Regions from separate parts of the Homo sapiens genome. Here region 2 is linked to region 1. The links come from fine-mapping of genetic effects on gene expression. A gene starts in region 1. The other region holds a variant in brackets. All regions are shown on one strand. Distances are between the middles of the regions.

The links.
Region 2: its variant is fine-mapped to the expression of RNASET2 in nucleus accumbens (GTEx, PIP above 0.99). The same link has a PIP of 0.9 or more in whole blood.

What each region holds. Positions count from the first base shown.
Region 1 is chr6:166,953,371-166,965,267 of GRCh38, reverse strand. It overlaps RNASET2 (ribonuclease T2), which reads left to right and starts at 8,718. Exons shown (of 9, transcript NM_003730.6): 1 at 8,718-9,171. The coding sequence starts at 9,086. RefSeq lists a cis regulatory region at 5,682-5,968, an enhancer at 6,649-6,768 and silencers at 7,733-7,782, 8,053-8,152, 8,193-8,952.
Region 2 is chr6:166,928,486-166,940,839 of GRCh38, reverse strand. It overlaps RNASET2 (ribonuclease T2), which reads left to right. Exons shown (of 9, transcript NM_003730.6): 6 at 1,832-1,945; 7 at 6,704-6,749; 8 at 9,722-9,796; 9 at 11,049-12,354. The coding sequence ends at 11,252. Among named protein-coding and RNA genes, the nearest start is that of RNASET2, 22 kb to the left of the region's middle. The variant A/G (reference allele first, on the strand shown) is at 6,482.

The DNA.
Region 1 (11,897 bases):
CAAGATGGGCAGATCACGAGGTCAAGAGATCGATACCATCCTGGCCAACATGGTGAAATCCTGACTCTACTAAAAATGCAAAAATTAGCTGGGCATGGTGGTGCACACATGTAGTCCCAGCTATTCAGAAGGCTAATGCAGGAGAATCGCTTGAACCTGGGAGGCAGAGGTTGCAGTGAGCTGAGATTGCACCACTGCACTCCAGCCTGGTGACAGAGCGAGACTCCATCTCAAAAAAAAAAAAAAAAAAGGAATCATAGATGACACAAAGAGTAAAGCATTTGATGCTCATGGATTGGAAGAATCAATATTGTTAAAATGGTCATACTGCCCAAAGTAATCTATAGACTTAATGCTATTCTTATCAAACTGCCAACATCATTTTTTCACAGAATTAGAAAAAAACTATCCTAAAATTCATATGGAACCTAAAGGAGCCTGAGTAGCTAAAGCAATCCTAAGCAAAAAGAACAAAGCTAGATATATCATACTATCCAACTTCAAACAATACTATAAGTCTACAGTAGGCTGGGCTCGGTGGCTCATGCCTGTAATCCCAGCACTTTGGGAGGCTGACTTGGGCGGATCACGAGGTCAAGAGATCTAGACCATCTGGCCAACATGGTGAAACTCCGTCTCTACCAAAAATATAAAAAATCAGCCAGGTGTGGTGGCACGCACCTGTAGTCCCAGTTACTCAGGAGGCTGAGGCAGGAGAATCCTCAGCTTCAGGAGGCTGAGGCAGGAGGCGGAGGTTGCAGTGAACCAAGATTGCACCACTGCACTCCAGCCTGGGCCACAGAGTAAGATTTCATCTCAAAAGAAAAAAAAAAGACTACAGTAAACAAAACAGCATGGTACTGGTACAAAAATAGACACACAGACCAATGGAACAGAGTAGAGAACCCAGAAATGAAGCAGCATACCACATACTTACAGTCATCTGATCTTCCACAAAGTTGACAAAAATAAGCAATAGGAAAAGGACTCCCTATTCGAAAAATAGTGCTGGGATAGCTGGCTAACCATATGCAGAAGAATGAAACTAGACTCCTATCTTTCACCAAAAGTTAACTCAAGATGGTTTAAGGATTTAAAAGACCTCATACTATAAGAATCCTGGAAGAAAACCCAGGACTCACCATTCTGGACAATGACCTTTGGAAAGAATTTATGACCAAGTCCTCAAAAGCAATTGCAGCAAAAATGAAAGTTGATAAGTGAGATCTAATTAAACTAAAGAGCTTCTGCACAGCAAAAGAAACTATCAACAGAGTGAACAATCTACAGAATGGGAGAAAATATTTGCAAACTCTGCCTCTGGCAAAGGTCTAATATCCAGGATCTACCATAAAATTAAATAATTTAACAAACAAAAACCAAATAATCTCATTAAAAAGTGGGCAAAAGACATGAATAGACACTTCTCAAAAGAAGAGATACAAACAGCCAACAAACATATGAAAAAATGCTCAATATCAGTGATTGTTAGGGAAATGCAAATCAAAACCAGAACACCAACCAGAATGGCTATTATTAAAAAGTCAAAAACCCCAGCTATGGCAACATGGTGAGGCCTTCATCTCTATACAAAAAAACTTTTGTTTTTTTTTGAGATGGAGTTTCGCTCTTGTTGCCCAGGCTGGAGTGCAGTGGCATGATCTAGGCTCACCACAACCTCCGCCTCCCGGGTTCAAGCGATTCTCCTGAATCAGCCTCCCAAGTAGCTGGGATTACAGGCACACACCACCATGCCCAGCTAATTTTGTATTTTTAGTAGAGATGGGCTTTCTCCAGGTTGGTCAGGCTGGTCTCGAACTCCCAAACTCAGGTGATCTGCCCGCCTCGGCCTCCCAAAGTGCTGGGATTACAGGCATGAGCCACCTCGCCCAGCCTACAAAAAATTTTAAAAAATTAGCCAGGCGCTGTGGTGTGTACCTGTGGTTCCAGCTACTCGGGAGGCCGAGGTAGGATAATTACTTGAGTACAGGAGGTCAAGGCTACAGTGAGCAATGTTCACGACATTACACTGCAGCCTGGGTGACAAAGTGAGACCCTGTTTAAAAAAAAAAAAACAACTCAAAAAACAACAGATGTTGGCAAGGCTGTGGAGAAAAAGGAACATTTCTACACTGTTGGTGGGAATGTAAATTAGTTCAGCTACCGTGGAAAGCAGTTTGGAGACTTCTCAATGAATTTTAAAAAGAACTACCATGGTCAGGCGCGGTGACTCACGCCTGTAATCCCAGCACTTTGGGAGGCTGAGGCGGGTGGATCACCTGAGGTCAGCAGTTCGAGACCAGCCTGACCAACATGGTGAAACCCCATCTCTACTAAAAAATACAAAAATTAGCCGGGCATGGTGGCGGGTGCCTGTAATCCCAGCTACTCGGGAGGCTGAGGCATGAGAATCGCTTCAACCTGGGAGGCGGAGGTTGCAGTGAGCCGAGATCATGCCGTTGCACTCCAGACTGGGCGACAGAGCAAGACTTCATCTCAAAACAAACAAACAACAAAAAAAACTACCATTTCACCCAGGAAAAATCCCATTACTGGCCATCTATCCAAAAGAAAACAAATCATTCTACCAAAAAGACACATGTACTCTCACGTTCATCACAGCGCTATTCACAATAGCAAAGACATGGAATCAACTTAGGTGCCCATCCATGGTAGGCTGGACAAAGAAAGTGTGGTATGTATATACCATAGAATACTACACAGCCATAATGAAAGAATGAAATCATGTCCTTTGCAGCAACACGGATGCAGCTGGATTATTCTAAGCAAATTAATGCAAGAACAGAAAACCAAATACCATACCACATGTTCTCACTTAAAAGTGGGAGCTAGGCTGGGCACGGTGGCTCACGCCTGTAATCCCAGCACTTTGGGAGGCCAAGGCAGGTGGATCACTTGAGGTCAGGAGTTTGAGACCAGCCTGACCAATATGGTGAAACCCCATCTCTACTAAAAATACAAAAATTAGCTAGGCAGCCGGGCATGGTATTTCACACCTGTAATCCCAGCACTTTGGGAGGCCGAGGCGGGAGGATCACGAAGTCAGGAGATCGAGGCCATCCTGGCTAACACGGTGAAACCCTGTCTCTACTAAAAATACAAAAAATTAGCTGGGCATGGTGGCAGGTGCCTGTAGTCCCAGCTACTCGGGAGGCTGAGGCAGGAGAATGGCGTGAACCCGGGAGGCGGAGCTTGCAGTGAGCCGAGATCGCACCACTGCACTCCAGCCTGGGCAACAGAACGAGACTCCGTCTCAAAAAAAAAAAAAAAAAAAAAAATTAGCTAGGCATGGTGGCCCTCGCCTGTAATCTCAGTTTACTCAGGAGGATATGACAGGAGAATTGTTTGAATCCAGGAGGCGGAGGTTGCAGTGAGCGGAGATCAGGCCACTGTACTCCAGCCTGGGCGACAGAGCAAGACTCCAATGTCAAAAAATAAACAAATAAGTAAGTGGGAGCTAAACCCTGGTTACCCATGGATGACAAGATGGCAACAGTAGACAGTGGGGACTATTACAGAAGGGAGGTAGGGAGCAGAGCAAGAGTTGAAAAACTAACTATACGATACTAGGCTCACTACCCAGGTGACAGGATGAACATACCCCCAATCTCAGCATCACGCAGTATACCCGTGTAACCAACCTGCACATGTACCCCCACATTTAAAATAAAAGTTGAAATTATTTTTTTAAAAAATACTTATTAAATATCTATTAAATTGTTGTTGTTGTTGTTTTGAGAGGGAGTCCAGGCTGGAGTGCAATGGCGCCATCTCGGCTCACTGCAACCTCCGCCTCCTGGGTTTAAGCGATTCTCCTGCCTCAGCCTCCCAAGTAGGTGGGATTACAGGCACCTGGCACCACGCCTGGCTAATTTTTTTTTTTATTTTTAGTAGAGACTGGGTTTAACCATGTTGGTAGGGCTGGTCTTGACCTCCTGACCTCAGGTGATCAGCCTGCCTCAGCCTCCCAAAGTGCTGGGATTACAGGTGTGAGCCACCGAGCCCAGCCAAAATTAACTGTTAATGTAATATTAAACTATTATTTGTAATGCAGAAGGGCTTATCTAAAGTAAAGCAGCTCAGTTATGTAGTAAAATCTCAGAAGTCTAAAATGCCTTGCTTATCTTTTTAAGATAAATAATTGTAAGACAGCTCAAGTAAGCAGCCTAATATCCACGTGTATAGGAGTATGTGTGTGCATGTGTGTGTATGTGTGTGCATGTGAGTGTGTGTGTAAGCTCATGGGTTTTTTTCTTTTCCTTTTTCAGAGTAAATATGCTTTGAAAATTTGACATCCATGATTAAATGTAATATATTGCTTTGCTTCACATTTCATAATAGCATGCTATTTGATCTGATTTATTCTTATTGTCTAGTTCCAGAAAGTTTTTTCCCTCTGGTTCCATCAGTTAAGTCACACTTGAAGAACAAATTATATTGTGAGAAACACATGACTGGTCTTTTCTGTTTCTCTCCTGTCCTCCTTTTGTCATGGCCACAGCTCAGAATAAAAGAGTTCCACAAAATGTGTACCACAGTGGCCAGGCTGGCATGGCAAGGCCAGAGGTGCTGGGACACCCTGACCAACATGGTCAAACTCCGTCTCTACTAAAAACACAAAAATTAGCCGGACGTGGTGGCACACGCCTGTAATCCCAGCTACTCGGGAGGCTAGGGCAGGAGAATTGTTTGAGCCTGGGAGACGGAGGTTGCTGTGAGCCGAGATTGTGCCACTGACTGCACTCCAGCCTGGCTGACAGAGTGAGACTCTGTCTCAAAAAAAAAAAAAGAAAAAGAAAAAGAAGAGAAAGGGCAGGGAAACACCCAGCAGCTGGCCTCACTTTCTCAGCAAATAAGTAATTCAGGATGGAAAGGAGTTTTTAAGGTGAGATTCTTTCAAGTGTGACAAAGCTCTTTAGAGCATGAGAATCCTAAACTGTGTAGTTGTGCCACTGCTCTGCCATTGGAATGGCCAGCACCAGATATGGGCTGTTCCTACCGCCTGGGTTCCAGAGTGAAAAATACCGTGGACCACAGTGGCATCTGACGCATAGCCAGCATGGAATATGGGCAAATGAATGATAAATGATCAACTTCCGTTTAAGTGAGACACTGAGATTTGGGGGCGGTGTATTATTGTAGCATAACCCAGCAAAAGCTGGCATGGAAACAGGAAACCTGGAGCTAATGCCAAGAAGAGGTTGTGTGGTGAAAGTATCTTGGTCTCTTCAGAATTAACAAGGATTTAAGGATGTCTGTTCATAGACATGGCTGTTGCCATCCTGTCCCCCTCCCCTCTCCTAAGGACATGTTTCTATACAAGCCAGCAGCATCTTTTAAACCTCATAGTTTGTACCCTTTTACACTATGTTGTGTGAGTCAATGTAATTCCCACTCTGGCCCCTGCCCACCTGCTTGATGCTGGAGCCCTCTTTGTTTTCGTAAAGCTGGGCGGCTTCCAGACCCAAATCCAGCCTTTACAGCCACTGCCTCTTCCCTACGTAGGGTTCCGTTTAGGATCCTGGTAGGTGGACAAGTAGTGAACAAGACAGATGACAGATGCTCCAGGTTCACATCCAAGTTTTGGGGGGTTGAGAGCTTTTCCATTTGGATGTCCTTCTTTAAGAACAAGAAGGTAAAATTGTGAATACGGAATGAGATATGGGGTCTTGGTGGGGCCCATGCCAGCAAGGGGCCTGAAGCTCCTCATTAGCTTCCGATGTGGGGGTGGGGGAGTAGAAGTGGGCAGTACAGGAGGAAGTGACAAGAATTCTCAGGGGTGGGGAGAACTGTGTCGAAAATAAACAAGGAAGTGCAACAGGAAATGACTGGGTGGCTTCTTCAGGCTGGGTAGGACGCTGCTGAATTTATCTGATAAAAATCTCCTCTCTGTGAGTTGTGGAAAGTGGCTTGCTGCGAGAGACCCCCTTCTTCCCCACATAACATAGGTAAGAGTGATAGAAGTGATGCAGCTGGGCGCTGTCTCCAAAAAAAAAAAAAAAAAAAGGAAAAGTGACGGATGCTCCCCTCACTCCACCCCCTACCCATTACCTAGGACAAAGCCAGACACAGATCCTCCAATTCCCATTCTTCACCTCATCAATGATGAGCCAGTCAATAGAAATAACACACTTGTTAAGCAAACTTGGTGAGGCTCCTCTCTTCCCCCGAGGCTGAGGACTTTTGGCCTCATCTTAGCCTGAGTCAGTCCCCCCTGAGAACAGGCTGGCCACGGGGTCAACCTTCTCTGATCTAATGTCCTATGAAGGCAGGTTCTCATCCCACTTCTCCATTCCCAGTTCATTCTTTCTCTCTCTTTCTTTTTCTCTCTTTCTTCTTTCTTTCATTCATTCTTTTTGTTGTTGTTGTTGACCGAGTCTCACTCTGTCGCCCAGGCTGGAGTGCAGTGGCGCGATCTCGGCTCACTGCAACCTCTGCCTCCTGGGTTCAAGCGATTCTCCTGCCTCAGCCTCCAGAGTAGCTGGGATTGAGGGAAGAGAGAGACCCTCTCATATTGTTTTATATTGTTTTATACTCAGTACCTGTTTTAAGAAAAAAACAAGGAAGTGAAATCAAAGACAGGCAGCCCGGCGCCAGGCCCAAAACCGGACCTGGGCCTGCCTGGCCTAAACCTAGTAGTTAAAAATCAACTCATGACTTAGAGACCGATGTTATTCATAGATTCCAGACATTGTATAGAAGAACATTGTGAAACTCCCTGCCCTGTTCTGTTTCTCTCTGACCACCAGTGCATGCAGCCCGTCACGTACCCCTTGCTTGCTCAAATCAATCACGACCCTTTCATGTGAAATCTTTAATGTTGTGAGCCCTTAAAAGGGACAGAAATTGTGCATTCGGGGAGCTCGGATTTTAAGGCAGTAGCTTGCCGATGCTCCCAGCTGAATAAAGCCCTTCCTTCTATAGCTCGGTGTCTGAGAGGTTTTGTCTGCCGCTCCTCCTGCCACAGGATTACAGTCGCGTGCCACCCCCGCCCAGCAAATTTTTGTATTTTTAGTAGGGACAAAAGGCCCCCAGGCCCCTGCAATAATGGTCCTCATAACACCACTCCTCCCCGAGTCCAGATTTGCTTTATATTTGGCAGTGGTCACAACAGCCCTCCTTGACAAGGGGCTGTTTAAACACACCGGACTGTGATTTAAAGGAAAATGAGGATTCTGGGAAGCACTTTTGTTTTAAGAAAATTATTTTTTTAGCTTAAAAGAAAAGAGAAAAAGAACTGTGGCGTGTGCCTATATTCTTGAGAGGAAGGAATGAAAGGAGCCGGAAAGAAACAAATAAGTCGTTAGGGAAAAGGAGAACGAGAATAACACCATGACCTGTAGGAGGTCCTGGAGGAGCTAAGGAGGTGTCAGCCATTTTCCCCCCCCATCTGTTCCACAGGTGGCATTTTATTGAGCACCGACTGTCCCCCATCCACTGTGCTCAGTGGCAGGGACTCAAGGTGGGCAAAATAGACATGGGCCTTGCCTTGCAGTCTAGTGGGAAAAACAGATTAATCATTTAAATATTTTGTTTCAAAGAATGGTAATGCATGCAGGCAAGGTCCAGGCCTGTGGGAGAGCAGGCTACAGGCCCACCTGCTATTTAGACAGTTACCAGTGGCAGAGGACCCCGAGGAAGGCGCAGTTTACTCGACGTGTAAATAGGAATAGCCTTAACTAGCTGTGGGTGTGCGGACAGGGAAGGGAAAGAGGAGAAACATCTGCAGAGACAATGCCGGGTGCACAGCCCGTGGGCGGGGCCGCGGGTGCAGGGGAACCCGTGCCTCTGAAGGGCTGGGAAGGCCAGGGTGTTGGGGGAGGAGACCGGGCCTATGGGACTGGCCCTGGCTACGCCAAGGTGGGGCTGACATGAAGTCCCCTTCATCCGTGGGGGGTGGCCCGTCCCTCTGGGAGGGGATCCCTCACAAGATGACTTCCCAGGTCGCGCCCCGAGGCGGCTCTTTGCTGCCCCCACAGAGATGACTTCCGGGCTCCTGGGGCCCGCGGGGAGGGGCAGGTGAGGCCCAGGGCTGGGTGAGGGCCAGGCCCTTCTAGGAATGTTGGTGCTCCCAGCACCTAGCACCGGGAGACTGGAGAGGTTTCCAGGAGAGTGACCCGAGTAGGTCCCCTCCTAATTCTGGAGCCGTCCCTCGGGCTGCGCAGTGGAGCGCCGAGGTGGCGGGAGGCTGCGGGGAGCCTGGGCGGCCAAGCACCATCTGCAGTCAGGAGCTCCCGGGCAGCTTGCAGGGCGCAGTTTTTGAAAGCGGGTGCTGCGTGCGGACCGCGGGCCTGCAGGGTGCGCGGGTCGGGCTGGGGGCTGTCCCTGGAGAGTAGAGTGGCCCTGGGGCCCGCACGCCCACTTGCTGGCGGGGGATGGCGCAGACACGGGCGGTCCCCCCGAGGGCGGTCCTCACGGGTGGTCTAGGTTAGCTCGGACCCGGGAGTGTGGGAGTGGCGCAGAGCTGCGGGAAAAGGCGCGGGGCGCCTGCGTGGCGAAGGAACACAGCCGCCTGACACGCCCTCAAGGCCCGCGGAGCTGCTCCTGCCTCGGCCTCTCTGAGCCAACCACGGGGCGGGGCGTGAACGCCGGGCGGGGACGTGCCGTTCTGGGGGGCGTGTCCACCGGCGGGGGCGTGCCGTCCTGGGGGCGTGGCTCTCTGCTCCGGTGCAGGCCCGCAGGGCGCCCTGGGCTGGGAGCAACGCGACTGACCGTGGTCGTGGGCGGACGGCGGCTGCAGCGTGGAGGAGCTGGGGTCGCTGTGGGTCGCGAAGCAGAGCCCGGGACGTGCGCGCTTGGTGCACGATCCTGAAGGGGAGCTCCGAGGGGCCCGGGTCGCCAGGGCTGCTGCGGCCATTCCCGGAGCCCGGCGCGGGGCCCGCGAGATACTGGTTTAGGCCGTCCCAGGGCTCCGGGCGCACCCGGTGGCCGCTGCTGCAGCGGAGGGAGCGCGGCGGCGCGGGGGCTCGGAGACAGCGTTTCTCCCGGAAGTCTTCCTCGGGCAGCAGGTGGGAAGTGGGAGCCGGAGCGGCAGCTGGCAGCGTTCTCTCCGCAGGTCGGCACCATGCGCCCTGCAGCCCTGCGCGGGGCCCTGCTGGGCTGCCTCTGCCTGGCGTTGCTTTGCCTGGGCGGTGCGGACAAGCGCCTGCGGTGAGTTACCTTGCGAGGTAAAGTGGGGAGCGTGGGAGCCGGGCCCTAGAGCTTTCCACTGGGTGAAGGCTGCAGCTCTCGGGGTCGGCGGTCGCTGAGCCCCGGGCAGCGACTGGGGAGGGCGGGGGGAGCCGAGCACGCTCCGGGGTGACCCCTGGGAAGAAGTTGGGAAGTTGAGCACGCCTCGGGGTGACCCCTGGAGGGAGTGGGTTGGGGGGAGCCCTTAGCACACTCAGAAGTGACCTCTGGGAAGGAGTGCGATGAGGGGAGTCCTGAGCACGCCCCGGGGTGACCTCTGGGAAGGAGTGGGTTGGGGGGAGCCCTGGGCACGCTCTGGGGTGACTCCTGGGAAGAAGTGGGTTGGGGAGCCCTGAACACTCCCCGGGGTGACCCCTGGGAAGGAGTAGGGGGTAGGGTGAGGTCCTGGGTACACTCCAGCCTGGAGCTGGACTGGAAACTCATCCCACAGACTGCTCCCAGCCTAGGACGCGACAAAGCAGGTGGCAGGCTTGGTGGAGCACTGTTCCTGCACTCGAAGTTCTCTCAGAGGTCGAAGAAGTCGTGGAGGGGACACTTAATTTCAGCTTTCACTGCGGCGGGTGGTGAAACGACGGTTCTTCCTCTTTTTGAGTATCCTGTTCTGAATCCCTTCCCTTGGCTCGCCCTCCGCGTGTGTGTGTGTGTGCGCGTGTGTGTGTGCGCGTGTGTGTGTGTGCGTGTGCGTTTGTGTGTGCGTGTGTGTGTGCGTGCGTGTGCGTGTGCGTGCGTGCGTGTGTGTGCGTGTGTGTCGTGTGTGCGCGTCTGTGCGTGTGTGTCGTGTGTGCGCGTGTGTGTGTGTGCGTGTGTGCGTGTGTGTGCGTGCGTGCGTGTGTGCGCGTGTGTGCGTGCGTGTGTGCGTGCGTGTGTGCGTGTGTGTGTGTGGCAGCCGCCCAAATTAATTAGGGGTAAACAGGCGGTGCTGCAAAGAACTCCAACTTTAATTCTGTGGAAGATACCAATATTTGAATACCATATTATTTCTTTCTATTTGGGTAATGATCGGGTTAATAGGATTTCTTACTTACATAGTAGGTGTGGAAAAGGTGGGTTTTACTTATTTATTTTTTTTTAGACAGTCTTACTCTGTCACTCAGGCTGGAGTACAGTGGCGTGACCTCAGCTCACTGCAACCTCCACCTCCCGGGTTCAAGCGATTCTCCTGCCTCAGCCTCTGAGTAGGTGGGATTACAGATGCACACCACCACGCCTGGCTAATTTTTGTATTTTTAATAGCCAGGCTGGTCTCGAACTTCTGACCTCAGGTGATCCGCCCGCCTCGGCCTCCCAAAGTGCTGGGATTACAGGCGTGAGCCACTGCACCCGGCCAGGGTTTTACTTTTTAAACACCTTAGGTATATATTTTTAATCATGTACATTAAAATGTAGCATTATATTTCAGTGTTCCGGAAAGTGTATTTTCTGAAAAAGAGCTACATTTATGTCCTTATTTATTGGCCATGAGGTTCAGAGCCTCTCACTGGGGAAGTCTGTGGCATGCTGGCCCTTGCTGGCTGAGTGGAAACTGCTAGTTCACACCCAGGTGTGGGACCTTTGAGCTCTCTATGCCCCAGTTTCCTCATCTGTAAAGTAGAAATAGTAACAGTCAGCCTCACAGAGTTGGCTTCAGGAGAAATCAGTTAAGGTACAGAATGTAACTTGGAATGATGTCTGGCTGGAAGTAAACATTAGCATAAAACAGGCTGTCATATGTGGATCCCCCACCCCAGCCCATAATTCATGCAACTGATATGATCGGACAAACTTGAGCAGGCAAGATTTGCGAGAACATGGTTGATTCAGACCACGAGGGCTTCATAGGTCAGCGGGCATTTTCCCAAGTTCTAACTGGTTTTGAGACCTTGGTGATTTTTCTTTCTTCTTTGACTTTCTTTAGCTTCTCCATTACTTTCTCCGTGAATAGGGGAGGGGGGCATCTGTGTGGGAGGGGGTCTCCTGCAGTCACATCACTCTGCCTGGTTTTAGATGGAGAGTTTGTTACAAACGTCTGAGTCTTGGTAGTTTTGTTGTAAGCATATTGATAGTCTCATCTTCCTGGGTGTTGCTAAGCTTTCCAGCCTCAGGTTCCGACTATGTAAAATAAGGTTTTTCACCCAAGGGTAAAAAATGCTTTACCAGCTCCAATTCTCACCCTGCAGCTCATCCTTTTTTTTTTTTTTTGAGACAGGGTCTGGCTGTGTAGCCCAGGTTGGAGTGCAGTGATGTGATCTGGGCTCACTGCATCTTCCACCTCCTGGGCTTAAGCTATCCTCTTGCCTCAGCGCCTTCCAAGTAGCTGGGACTACAGGTTCATGCCACCACACCTGGCTAATTTTTGTAGAGACAGGGTTTCACCATGTTGCCCAGGCTGGTCTTGAACTCCTGAGCTCAAGCAATCCTCCTGCCTCTGCCTCCCAAAGTGCTGGGATTATAGGTGTGAGCCACCACGCTTGAACCCTTTTTTCCTTTTATACTGAGAGCTTGCATAATTAGTTCCAATGTACAACTAAGTTTTCATACCATCTTAACTGTAAATTCTATACAAATTCAACAGGACTCAATTATTTACAAAAGCTAATGTGTGACAACTTGATCTTCTTACTTGGAATCTTCCCTTCTAAAATTTGATTTATCCTGAAGTGTCTGCTTGACTTATATCCTGTGTTGCTGCTGGCTTTTTCCATGTGCAT
Region 2 (12,354 bases), 25 kb after region 1:
CTCTTGGTGGGTGAGTCAGGGTGTCTCTCAGCACAGAGGGCAACACGCTGAGTCACTTCGCATTGGTGACTGACCGTTCTGATGCTTAAAAAAAAAAGGTCCAGTCCAAATGAAGTGTGAGTGAATGCTGTGAGCTCCATGAATATCAATCTATTTCCAACATCTGTTGAGTTAAGCTTGCTCCAGGAATAATGATGGCTGACATTTACTGTTTATTGTGAGCCAGGAACTGTTTTCATTCATGTGGAAGGGCTCAGCACACCTCATCTCACCTGCAGAATTACCCCTGTTTTATAGAAACTAAGTCACCTGGAATTCAGGTTACATTTCAATTAGTTTAAAATAATCTCCTTTTTCTACCTTATAGGATATAGGAAGTTATCAGGTAATTTGCTCTGGAAAGGCTTCTAGATGAAGACAGTTACTCATCCACTTTCATCGTTCCTGTTTTCAACTTTTCATCATTTTCTGAGAGTTAAATCAATAGGAATTATTTAAAACTAGTATTTTGGATGAATTTTGCCAGTGAATTAATGCACATTTAGATTGTGTTTTTAAGACTGCATATAAGTGCTTTATAAGTGGTTGCATGAATGTTATTTATTAAAACTTCATGAATTCATCACCAATAAAGCTGAGGAAATCTGATTCCCATTTTGTCTTTTCATGCTAAAGATGATAAACATCTGATGACACGCCAGTCATTCTGAAGGTGGCTGTCAATCTCGTCAGCAGTTGATTGGATGACAGCCCAGTGCAGTGGGAAGGGCGCTGACCTTGGACTTGAGCGTGGCCTTCAAGGGCAGGCTCTGAGTGACCTTCAGCAAGTCCCCTGGCCCTTCTGGGCTTCCATTCCCTGTCTGTAAACTAGCAGTGATATTTCCGCCTTGCAGAGTTTTGAGAACCAAACGAAGAACGTGAAAGATTTTTGTAAACCTTTAATCTGCAGTAAAATATCAGGAATCATTCTCAGTGACCACATTTTTCTGGAATACAAATTGCTGTTCACGTGCAGCCCTTTAGTTATAGGCTATTCAGTTGTTCTTATTGTCCTCTATGTAGAATGGATGCTTAAACTATAATTTGTAGAAGCTGAAATGGAAAATGGGCCTGAGGTGTTTCCTGGTAATTAGCTGTCCTGCCTTTCCATGGCTGGTTGCTTAGAAATGACAGTTTGTGCCACTCTGCGAAATTCCCTGACTGCAAAGCACCCACTCACTGCAGGAGACCACACGTTGCTTTGTGAATCAGTGGGGGTTGGGGCAGCAGCATGTTCTTTTTTCTCAGCTTTGATTTGTTGTTAATTGAGCAAGCTGTAATTGTAGACGTGAACTGAAACTGATTATTTAATCGTGGGGGATTGAAATAATTGCCTATGTTGCAAATAAGGAATTTTATCCTTCCTACTTTGTAAAAGAAATGACATGCCTACCACATGGGAATAGTCTGTGCTGAGAGAAAACATGCTTGAGCATTTTAATTGGGAATCAGTTTCATTACTTTTTTTTTGAGATGGAGTTTGTCTCTTGCCCAGGCTATAGTGCAATGGCATGATCTTGGCTCACTGCAACCTCTGCCTCCCGGGTTCAAGCGATTCTCCTCCTCAGCCTCCTGAGTAGCTGGGATCTCAGGCACCTGCCACCACACTCGGCTAATTTTTTTGTATTTTTAGTAGAGACAGTTTCACCATGTTGGTCAGGCTGGTCTCAAACTCCTGATCTCAGGTGATCCACCCCCTTCAGCCTCCCAAAGTGTTGGGATTACAGGCATGAGCCACTGCACGCAGCCTGTTTCACTACTTTTAAGTGGAGATTTTTCCTAATCCTCACAGGAAGCATGAGTGGGAAAAGCATGGGACCTGCGCCGCCCAGGTGGATGCGCTCAACTCCCAGAAGAAGTACTTTGGCAGAAGCCTGGAACTCTACAGGGAGCTGGACCTCAACAGGTGGGTGCGCCCTTCCCCCGGCTGCACTTCCCAGTGGGGATCTCTGCTGTCGCCCAAGCCTGACAGCTGGATCCAGGGGAGTGGGTGTAGACCTCACTGCCCTCCAGCAGCTTCTGCATGTGCACTATTCGGCTACTGGGATCATTCCTGAGGAATGTTCTGAGCCTACCAAGCCTTTCCAGATCATTCTACATCACGATCACACAGAGTGGGTGCAGAGTATTGGGATGCCCATCTGGGCACCATCTCATCATCAGAGTCGGCCATAGGGAAAACGAGGACTCCAACCAGCATGTGCCGTTCTCAGCCATGATTCCTGATAAAGGATAGTGCATTAATAAGTCGTTTCCTTAGAAAGACGGAAACTCTGGAAGTCTGTAGGTCTTTGCCGCAGAACTCCTGGAACAAGCAGGCAGGAAAGAGATGTGGGCCAGGGTTCTTTAAGCCCCAGAAATGACCCCAACCTGCCTAAATCGTCCCTGCCTGCCCTCACCTCTATTCTTGAGAAGTGGAATACGTTGTCCCACTTGAGCCAGTTGACTTGTAAAGCAAAGTGCCTTCTGAGCGCCACACCGAGCCCACTCACTGTCCGAATCTGGTTGCTAGAGAGCCAGGGTGTGCCCTTACCTCTCCGTCGGGACGTTTCAGGGTGTCAGCGTCTTAGCTGCTCTCACTGACCTTCATCATAAGAGGTCATAATAAACCAGTGAAGTCGTGAAAAACATGACAGGCAATTGCACAGCCTCTGTGTTGCTGCTTTTGGAATTCACGCAGCTTGTTTTAGAGCAATTCTCCTTCAAATCAGAATAATACCAGGAGCCTTAGCTAATCAGCTGTATTTAAGGTTTCTGAATCAAAACTGCTTAAAAGATGAATAAACCTCCATTGCTTATCTAGACATGTGCTTTGCCTCCTCAACGTACAAAATCGTCTCACACAGATGGTCTCCTGTGTCATCTGATGAAACGCAGTCTAACAGCTGCAACTTGGGTGGGATAGAGCTCAGGCACTGATAGAAGAGGGGCTTGGCACGGTTAGCGGGGATCAAGATTACATCAAAGAATGCCCTGTGAATAAACTTCTTTAAAAATCACCTCCCAGAGCGCGTGGCATTAGGTGTGCCTTTTCATCCTGGTTCTGACACTAACTAGTTGTACAATTTGTGTATCTAACCTCTAGCTCTTTTTTCCATGCTGTGAAATAAATGGATAGGTTGCCCTCAACCCTGAAGTCTCTTCCAGCTCTTAAAATCTGCACTACCAGGTATATACACTAAGAAACGTACACAGACCTATACACTTTGATTTGTATATAGTTTGTGTATATAATTTGATCTATGTAATTTAATCTTAGGTTTTTAATAAAGGAAGCATTGCTTTCTTGCAGTAAGAGCAATATTTTAGGAAACATTTTCTCACCTAACAAATGTAGCTAATTAGCTGTTCAGAAATCATTATGGGCCATGTGTGGTGGCTCATGCATGTAATCCCAGCACTTTGGGAGGCTGAGGTGGGTGCATCACCAGAGGTCAGGAGTTCAAGACCAGCTTGGCCAACATGGTGAAATCCCATCTCTACTAAAAATACAAAAATTAGCCAGGTGTGGTGGTGCATGCCTGTAATTCCAGCTACTCGGGAGGCTGAAGCAGGAGAATGGCTTGAACCCAGGAGGTGGAGGTTGCAGTGAGCTGAGATCGTGCCATTGCACTCCAGCCTGTGCGAAAAGAGCAAAACTGTCTCAAAAAAAAAAGTCATTATGAGGATTAACCAAGAGAGTGTCTTAGGTAGCTCCTGGAGCACAGGAGACTTGCAGTTAAAAAGAAAGTCTGACATTGCTGAAAGACTGGCAGGGTAGGACCCACTTTGGAGATGACAAGAAAGATGCCCTCTGTTTCAAAACAGGGGTCTCACAGTCCTGACCCTGCTGCAGAGTGCTGGTGTTTTCCAGGCTGACTCCATAAACCAGTTCATTTAATCAAACAGAGAAAGGATAAATGGATACTACTGAAAATTTTAAAATCAATCATCTAAATAATTCATCTCTGTATCCAACAAATAGTTTATTAAGTGGCTCCTACTTACACTCGTTGAAACTCAGTAGCTTTCCTGCTATGGTTTGGATGTGGTTGGTTTATCCCCACCAAATCTCATGTTGAAATTTGATCACCAGTGTGGAGGTGGGAGGTGTTTGAGCTGCGGGGAAGGATCCCTCATGAGTAGGTTAATGCCCCCTTGCAGGGGTGAGCGAGTTCCCACTCAGTTCCCCAGAGAGCTGGTTGTTAACAGGAGCCTGGCACCGCCCCCAACCCCTGGCTTCCTCTCTGGCCATGTGATCTCTGTACACACCAGCTCCCCTTTGCCTTCTGCCATGAGCGGAAGTTTCCTGAGGCCCTTGCCAGAAGCAGAATCTGGTTCCATGCTTCTCGGACAGCCTGCAGACCCCTGAGCCAAAAAAACCTCTTTTTTTAAATAAATTACCCAGCCTCAGGTATTCCTGTATAGCGACACTAGACAGACTGAGACACACACACACACACACACACACGACACATGCAAAACTCTAAGTCCTGGAGTTCCTGTGGGGATTCAGCAGAGCCCAGTGCTGCCCTGCCATTGCTGTAGATGGGAATGGTGCGTCCTCCATTCATTCATTCATTCATTCATTCAGTAAATGTTCACTGAGGGCCTGCCAGGGCAAAGCACTACTGAGAGTATGTTTGCTAAAACCTATAAAGAACAATTATAGGAAAATTATATTCTTAGTTTCTCCAAGGGAAATCTATAATTCTTAGTGCCTTCATTTTAATCTAAAAATTAAATTAAGAAGTCAAAATTTAAGACCCCTCATTTTTCCTTGTAAACTGGTATCACAAATTATCTTTTTCTCATAGGTTGGCTTTTCAAATTATCATAAACTGGAACAGGCTGGGCACAGTGGTTCACGCCTGTAATCCCAACACTTTGGGAGGCCAAGGCGGGTGGATCATGAGGTCAGGAGTTCATGAACAGCCTGGCCAACATGGTGAAACCCCCGTCTCTACTAAAAATACAAAAATTAGCTGGGCATGGTGGTGCACGTAATCCTAGCTACTCAGGAGGCTGAGGCAGGAGAATCTCTTGAAACCAGGAGGCGGAGGTTGCAGTGAGTCGAGATCGCACCACTGCAGTCCAGCCTGGGCCACAGAGCAAGACTCTGTGTCAAAAAAATAAAATAGAATAAAAAATTGTAGCTTGTTTTTCTTCACTTCATAATATGAAGGCAGCAAACCTGAAAAACCACAAATCATCTTGAAGCAAAGTTGTCAGGGTTCCCATAGACACAGATGAGCTGATGGCACGTGCTAGAGTACCCACAGATAAAGACCTGGGATGCGTGCCAAGCTCATCTCAACTCAGCAGAAAGCATGATGCTGGGTTAGGTGCTGCATTTCCCCACATCTTTCTCTCTTTGCCGTATTCCCTTGATCACCCAAGTCAGGAGCATGCTACCCAATAGACGTGTAACACGAGCCACAGATGTCATTTTAAATTTTCTAGTAGCATCATTAAAAGGAGCAAAAAGAAACAGGTTAAATTAATTTCAAAAATATTTTATTAAACTCAATATATCAAAAATAGGATCATCGAAACTTAGGATAAATATTAAAAAATTAATAAGCTAGTTTACATTTTTTTTTTTTAACTGCAAAGTCTGAAACCTGTTATTCATACAACACCAACAGCTAGGGTAGGCGAGGTCCTGTGGGTTCGGGCCATGATGGGGCTGAAAGGACCCTGGTCCGGCATCTCGGTCCTTGTTCCAGGAACTCTGTGGCCAAGACAGTCTGACAATAAGTTATTGCCCACAGAGGATGTCTAAGTCTTTGTGTCCACTCTGTGATCGTGATCTAGAATTTTCTACCAAGGCTTGATGGGGAACTAGGATATTCTTCTGCAATGATTCAGAATTTTACAGTGTACCTTTATACTTTAATAAGTGAATTCTATATATGGTAGTTTGGTAGGATTCTGTGTAGAAGTGCTTTAGGAGGTGATTGAAAGCTGTAGGGACTTACCATACGGTTATGTATTGCTTGGTGATGGGGTATAAAATTGTCATGTGAACATCTTGGAGTGCACTTACTTAGCTGATACAGCCCACGACACACATATGCTTTGTGGTATAGCCTGTTGCTTCGAGGCTACAAACCTGTACAGTGTGTGACTCTACTGAGTACTGTAGGCACCTGTATGTAACACAATGGTAAGGATTTGTGTATCTAAACATATCTCAACATAGAAAAGGCACAGTAGAAATGTGGTCATATGGGACCGCCCTCGTACATGCAGGCCTTCACTGACTGAATGTCGTAATGTGGCGCATGACTGTGTTTAAAGATTTGTCCAAATGCAGTTTACCAGGATAAGCCTGGAATCCGATTTCAATTGCTGTCTTTTAAAGCAGGTGTGGCAAACGGGTGGTGATGTGTGTGCCAGCTCCACTCGGTGGTGGCCCCAGCGCTCCCATGCTCCGAAGGAGTCAGGAACTGGAAAGGGT[A/G]CCTGCCTGGAGCAGTTTGTGTGTGTGCTAAGGGGTGGGGAAGGCGGGGACTGGGAACCATGTATTTGCAGTCCATGTTGACACATTTGTTGCATAAAGTCATAGAAAACACTTTCCTTTAAGAGTGTCTTAATTTTTACCATGAAATATGATACCTGAAAAGAACAAGAAAGCAAAGTGGACCTTCATTATACAGCTAACTTTTTTAAATTTAAATTTTAGTGTGCTTCTAAAATTGGGGATAAAACCATCCATCAATTACTACCAAGTAAGTCTTGCTTTTGCTTCTTTTCTCGTGTGTCTCTCCCGGGGACCTCCAGTAGGGCCGTTTCAGCCTCTGAGTCAATGGGCTGTAAATTGCCCCAGTGCAAACCCCCTTCCTACTTAAATGTTATCATGTGAACAGATTTTATTTGCATTTTATTTTCCTGCGCATGTTGAGTAGGAGCTGAAGGCTGCTTAGACCAGTGATTTGGAAGCACAGATTTCATGGCTCCCTTTGTGAGAAGTGTGTGCTCCAGGGTCCGGCAGAGCAGGTGGAATCTGCAGTTTCAAGAGTCACATTCACTTTTATAACGTAGTCTTATATTTGTTTGTGGTTTGTTTTCATGATAAAATTGTGATTTGTTTTATGATAAAAGAAACTATAGATATTTAAGCATGACAAGATGTTATTAGCTGGTAAGCATATACAAAAAGTTGCTTTTTGCCAGGTGTGGTGACTCACGCCTATAAATCCCAGGACCTTGGGAGGCTCAGGCTGGAGGATTGCTTGTGGCTAGAATTTCGAGACCAGCCTGGGCAGCAGAGTGAGACCTCTAGAAAGAAGTAAAAGTAGCTGAGCATGATAGTATGTGTCTGTGGTCTCAGCTATTCAGGAAGCTAAGGTCAGAGGATTGCCTGCGCCCAGGAATTTGAGGCTGCAGTGAGCCATGGTCGCCCCACTGCACTCCAGTCTGGGCGACAGCCAGATCACGTCTCTTTAAAAAAAAAAGAAAAAGTAGTTGTTTTCAACTCTTGGTTGCCTGTTTTTGTAAACAAAATTGTACTCCTTTGTTACCTGGGGATGCTTGTGCTCCCATGGTGTAGCTGCAGTAGGGACCGATGTGTCATCCACAAATCCCGGGATATTTACGACGTGGACCTTTACGGAAAATGTTTGCAGACTCTTGCCTTAGAGAAAGGTATCAGATTCTTTGAGATAGTTTTCGTATTTATCACAGGTTGTGGATTTAGAAAAAGGTTGAAAGTCACTGATCTTAGTAGTTCTGGGGCGATGGCTGGATGTTGAACAATTATTTTGGTATCTTGACTGTTTGTGAAATAAATTGGCAACAGTGTCTTTGCTCTCATGGTGTCTGCTTACCTGTGCAGCCATTTTTCCAGAGTGTGGGGAGCAGTGGACTTGAGGAAGGAGTCTACCAGCCCTTTCCAGACTCCCCCTCAACCCCAACCCCAGGAAGCCGTAAGATGATCGCTTGCAGGGCCCTCACCGTCCTCACCTGGACTCATGTGCGAATAGATGAGGGACATGTGCCTGCCATGTTTGCCCAGAGCTCGGTGTTCAGGGAACTGATTACAGGGGTGGCAAAAGCCACAGGGGCCACACATTTGCTGAGCTGCTTCCAGGTGCGAACGGCGCTTGTTTGGGCATCAGAAACAGCACGGTGGATACTCGGAGTCCTGTCCTTTGAAAGGAGTTTGATTTATCATCAGGAGAAATTTGTTGCTTTTGCATCCAGCATCCAGCCACGTATCCACTCATCTGTTTTATGGGGAAATCAGGGCTGCGGGAGCACCCAGGAGAGCTGCCGACCCAGACATTTCCTGGGAAATGCGTTGCTGAGATGGAGGCCTGCAGCCTGCCCAGGCCCTGAGGGGAGTGGTTCAGTGGAGCAGAGCTGGGGGCTGGGGGCTGGGAGATATGGGACCAGTTGCTTCTTGAGGGGGCTCAGGGGCAGAGCAGGAGGGTTGGGAAGGGGCCGGGTGGGAGCCATAGACATGAGGACCTCATCCTCCAGCAGCGCTGAGCTCTGAGTAGGCCGGGGTGTTTGCTTGTTGCTGTCCCCGTGGTACTGGGGAGAGGCTAGGCACAGAGACCCTCCGAGTAGGTCACATGCTGGGGGAATCTGGGCCTATGGCTATGCAGCTGGAGAGGAAGGGATAGTGTGGGGAGCTTGGACTTGGCCGTTTGGGACAGGGGGATGGGAGAGGCAGAGGTCCTGCCTCAGGCCTCCATAGGAGTGACATTTGCTGGTGTCAGAAGCTTGGCAAGAGGGGAGGATGATCAGACCCTGCATGGACAGTTCGAATTGGAGCTCTCTGCAGAGTCCAGGAAGAGAGGTCTGGATGGGAGGGAAGCCATGGGGTGGAAAAGATAGCTTCCAATGGAAGGCAGTGAAAACTCGCCATAAGTGAAGGAGAAGAAGGAGGCCAAGGAGATGGGGCAGGAATGGCAGCCGGCAGCCAGGCGGTCAGTGGAGCAGGTGCTCAGGAGGCCCACAGGAGAGCTTCGTGGAAGGAGTGGACAGTGTCTGAGGCAAGGGGCAAAAGGCATCTGCTGGAGCTGGTGACCCCAGCTTGGTGCCCCCCAAAGCCAGAGTACGAGGCTGAGAGGATGCAGGTGTCCTCCTAGGAGGTTTGAGTCAGAAGGCACGAGGCAGAAGCAGTGGGGGAGGACTCCCTCAGTAGAGCGAGGAGGAGGCCCCTCATCCAAGAGGAGGTTGGAGCACAGGGGGGTCTAGGTTTGCAGTTTCGGGACCGGTAGCTGAGGGGTCCCAGGGCCTTTCTTCTGTGAAGGAGAATGTGTCCACCGTGGGGAGGGGGTCGGGAGAGAGAGATACTTCAGAGTGGACAGGGCTGAGAAAGCTTTATGGGCCGCGAAAGGCAGAGTAGTTGTTGGTGGATGAGGGTGGCTGTGGCAGGTGGCGTTTCAGGTGAGACAGCTCGGGGCCCAGAAAGACACTGGGAGGAGGAGAGCTCTGCTCTCCAGAGAAACAGGAGCAGAGAGGAAAACAGAGCCGCAGCGAGCGGCTTGTGGTCTGGGGATGAAGCCCAGGTTGACAGCATCCTCTGCTTCGCTGGTGGAGGTGGGGGCATCATTCTCACACCTGTGCTGGGTCCTGTCCCTGCCAGCCAAGGGAGACCAGGACCCTGCCACTGTTGCGCTCAGGATAGTCCAGAACTGTCAGATCTTTTCTGTTGAAGTTTAATTTCTAATACACTTGTATTTAAAATCAGGTTGCAGATTTTAAAGATGCCCTTGCCAGAGTATATGGAGTGATACCCAAAATCCAGTGCCTTCCACCAAGCCAGGTTAGACAGTTATGTTTTGTCTTCCTTTTTTTCTCAAGAAGACAGGTTCTACTTTTCTGATGGCCTTGTCTTCACCATGCAGTTCCCTGGGGCAGACTTGTATTTGTGCATTTGTGTCTGTATATGTGGGCATGTGGTGTGTGTGTGCATGTGTGTGTGTACATGCATGTGTGCATGTGCTGTGTGTGCATGTGTGTGTACATGCATGTGGGCATGTGCTATGTGTGCATGTGTGTGTACATGCATGTGGGCATGTGCTATGTGTGCATGTGTGTGCATGTCCTGTGTGTGCATGTGTGTACATTATGTGGGCATGTGCTGTGTGTGCATGTACATGCATGTGTGCATGTGCTGTATGCGCATGAGTATACATGTGCGCATGTGCTGTGTGTGCAAGTGTGTACATTATGTGGGCATGTGCTGTGTGTGCATGTACATGCATGTGTGCATGTGCTGTGTGTGTGCATGTGTGTGCATGTTCTCTGTGTGAACATGCATGTGGGCATGTGTGTGCATGTGTGAATGTGTGCATGCATGTGAACGTGCTGTGTGGGCATGTGCGTGTGTGTGTGTGTGTACATGCATGTGGGTATGTGCTGTGTGTGTGCATGGGCCTGTGCCTCTGTGTGAATGTGCATATGAACATGTTCATGTACTGTGTGTATGTGTGCACATATGGGCATGTTCTGCATGTGTGCACAGGCCTGCACATCTGTGTATGTGAGCATGCATGTGTGTCTGTGTGAGCATGTGCTGTGTGTGAGCAAGCATGGTTTCTTGACAGCATGCTAGGACAGGGTTTGTCTTCTTGCTTATCTTTAACAAGAATATACCTGTTCTTTTAGCAATAGGGTACTGTTGCCCTTTTGGCCTACAAAAGCCATTTCTTCTCCTAATATCTTGATAGATATGTTGAGTGCTGTTGTATCTGTGTGTAACTTTGTTAATTTTCTCTAACATAAAAGCAGAGGCTTTTCACCAGGGCACCAGGCTGGCCTCTGGTGGTGACCAGGGGATCCAACCCCCAAGCCCAGCTCCACTGCCCACAGGCGAGTCACCTGGGGCCACTCCTTCCAATTTAGTGCACAGCAGCCTTCTGCTCAATGAAGGGGTCCGTTCTTGGAACCTAGAACCTGTGGTGTGGAGCCTCTGCTTTTGTTATCTTCTAAAAGTTCTAAAAGTTCATGATCTTAAGACCTTGATGATAATCCAAGATCTGAATTCTAAAGCGTCTTTCATTGTTTACTTTTAGGATGAGGAAGTACAGACAATTGGTCAGATAGAACTGTGCCTCACTAAGCAAGACCAGCAGCTGCAAAACTGCACCGAGCCGGGGGAGCAGCCGTCCCCCAAGCAGGAAGTCTGGCTGGCAAATGGGGCCGCCGAGAGCCGGGGTCTGAGAGTCTGTGAAGATGGCCCAGTCTTCTATCCCCCACCTAAAAAGACCAAGCATTGATGCCCAAGTTTTGGAAATATTCTGTTTTAAAAAGCAAGAGAAATTCACAAACTGCAGCTTTCTAAAAAACAACTCCAAAGTGAAGTCTGTTTATTTTGCTGTTTCCCCTCCATGCCTGTGAATTGGATGTTGTGGTCCCTGTAGAGTGAGTGCATGTGGCGTACACGGGGAGAAAGGAGCTCTCCCACGCCTGAGTGGCTGTTTTGTGCTTGGGATAAAGCTCACAGATTGTTTTTTTTTTTCTCTATTAAACTCTTCAGTGCCCTGGTAGATCAGGCAGGCATACTTGGAATTTAGACAGATGGCACCGATTCAGGGGACTCTCTTGCTCGAGTTTTCCCCTCGGAGCCTGTTGCCTTCTTGGCGCAGGGACCCTGTCAAGACGAAGAGCTCCACGCATGGCAGGAGCCCACGCTGATGCCTGGTGGGCCTGGGGGGTGTCTCTAGCTCAGACTGGGTCTGTTCCATGTGACCAGAGCCCCAGGACATCGTTCCTTAGCCAGCTGCTCCGTTGTTGGAGGCCTGGTGTGGTCACAGGTGTGTCCTAGAACGGTGACTTTGCCCCTCCTGCCCTAGGAGATTTGGGTGTATTCACAGAGCAGCCATCTCCTGTCTCCGTCAGAGCAGTCTCTTCCAGGTTACTGGAAGGTCAGTTTCTGTCAGGCCTCACTTCCTTCTTATCAGAGGGTAGCCAGGTCCCTGCACTGGTATCTATTTAGAAATGTACATGGAGCCCCCAGCGAAATGTGCCTACATTGTGTGTTCCAGAACCGGAGGTACCCTTACCTTCTAGATATGTGATGACATGGCTCTCACGTCAGGCAGACTGCTGCACCCACGCTCTCGGCCTGCCGTGCAGGGATTTCACTCGTGGAGTGAGGCATCTGGGGGCTGTGCAGTGAGGAGCTTTCCATGTGTTGTTAAGACAACCTGTTAGCATTGTCTTCTCCCGCGTCTCCTGGCCTCTTCTCTCTTTAAATCCTTTTCTCTGTTTGTCTTAATCACATTAACGTCCTATTTATGTTTTATTCAATATACATTTAAAATAGAACTTACTATGTGCCAGGCATTGTGTTCAACACGTGAAATATTTAATCCTTAG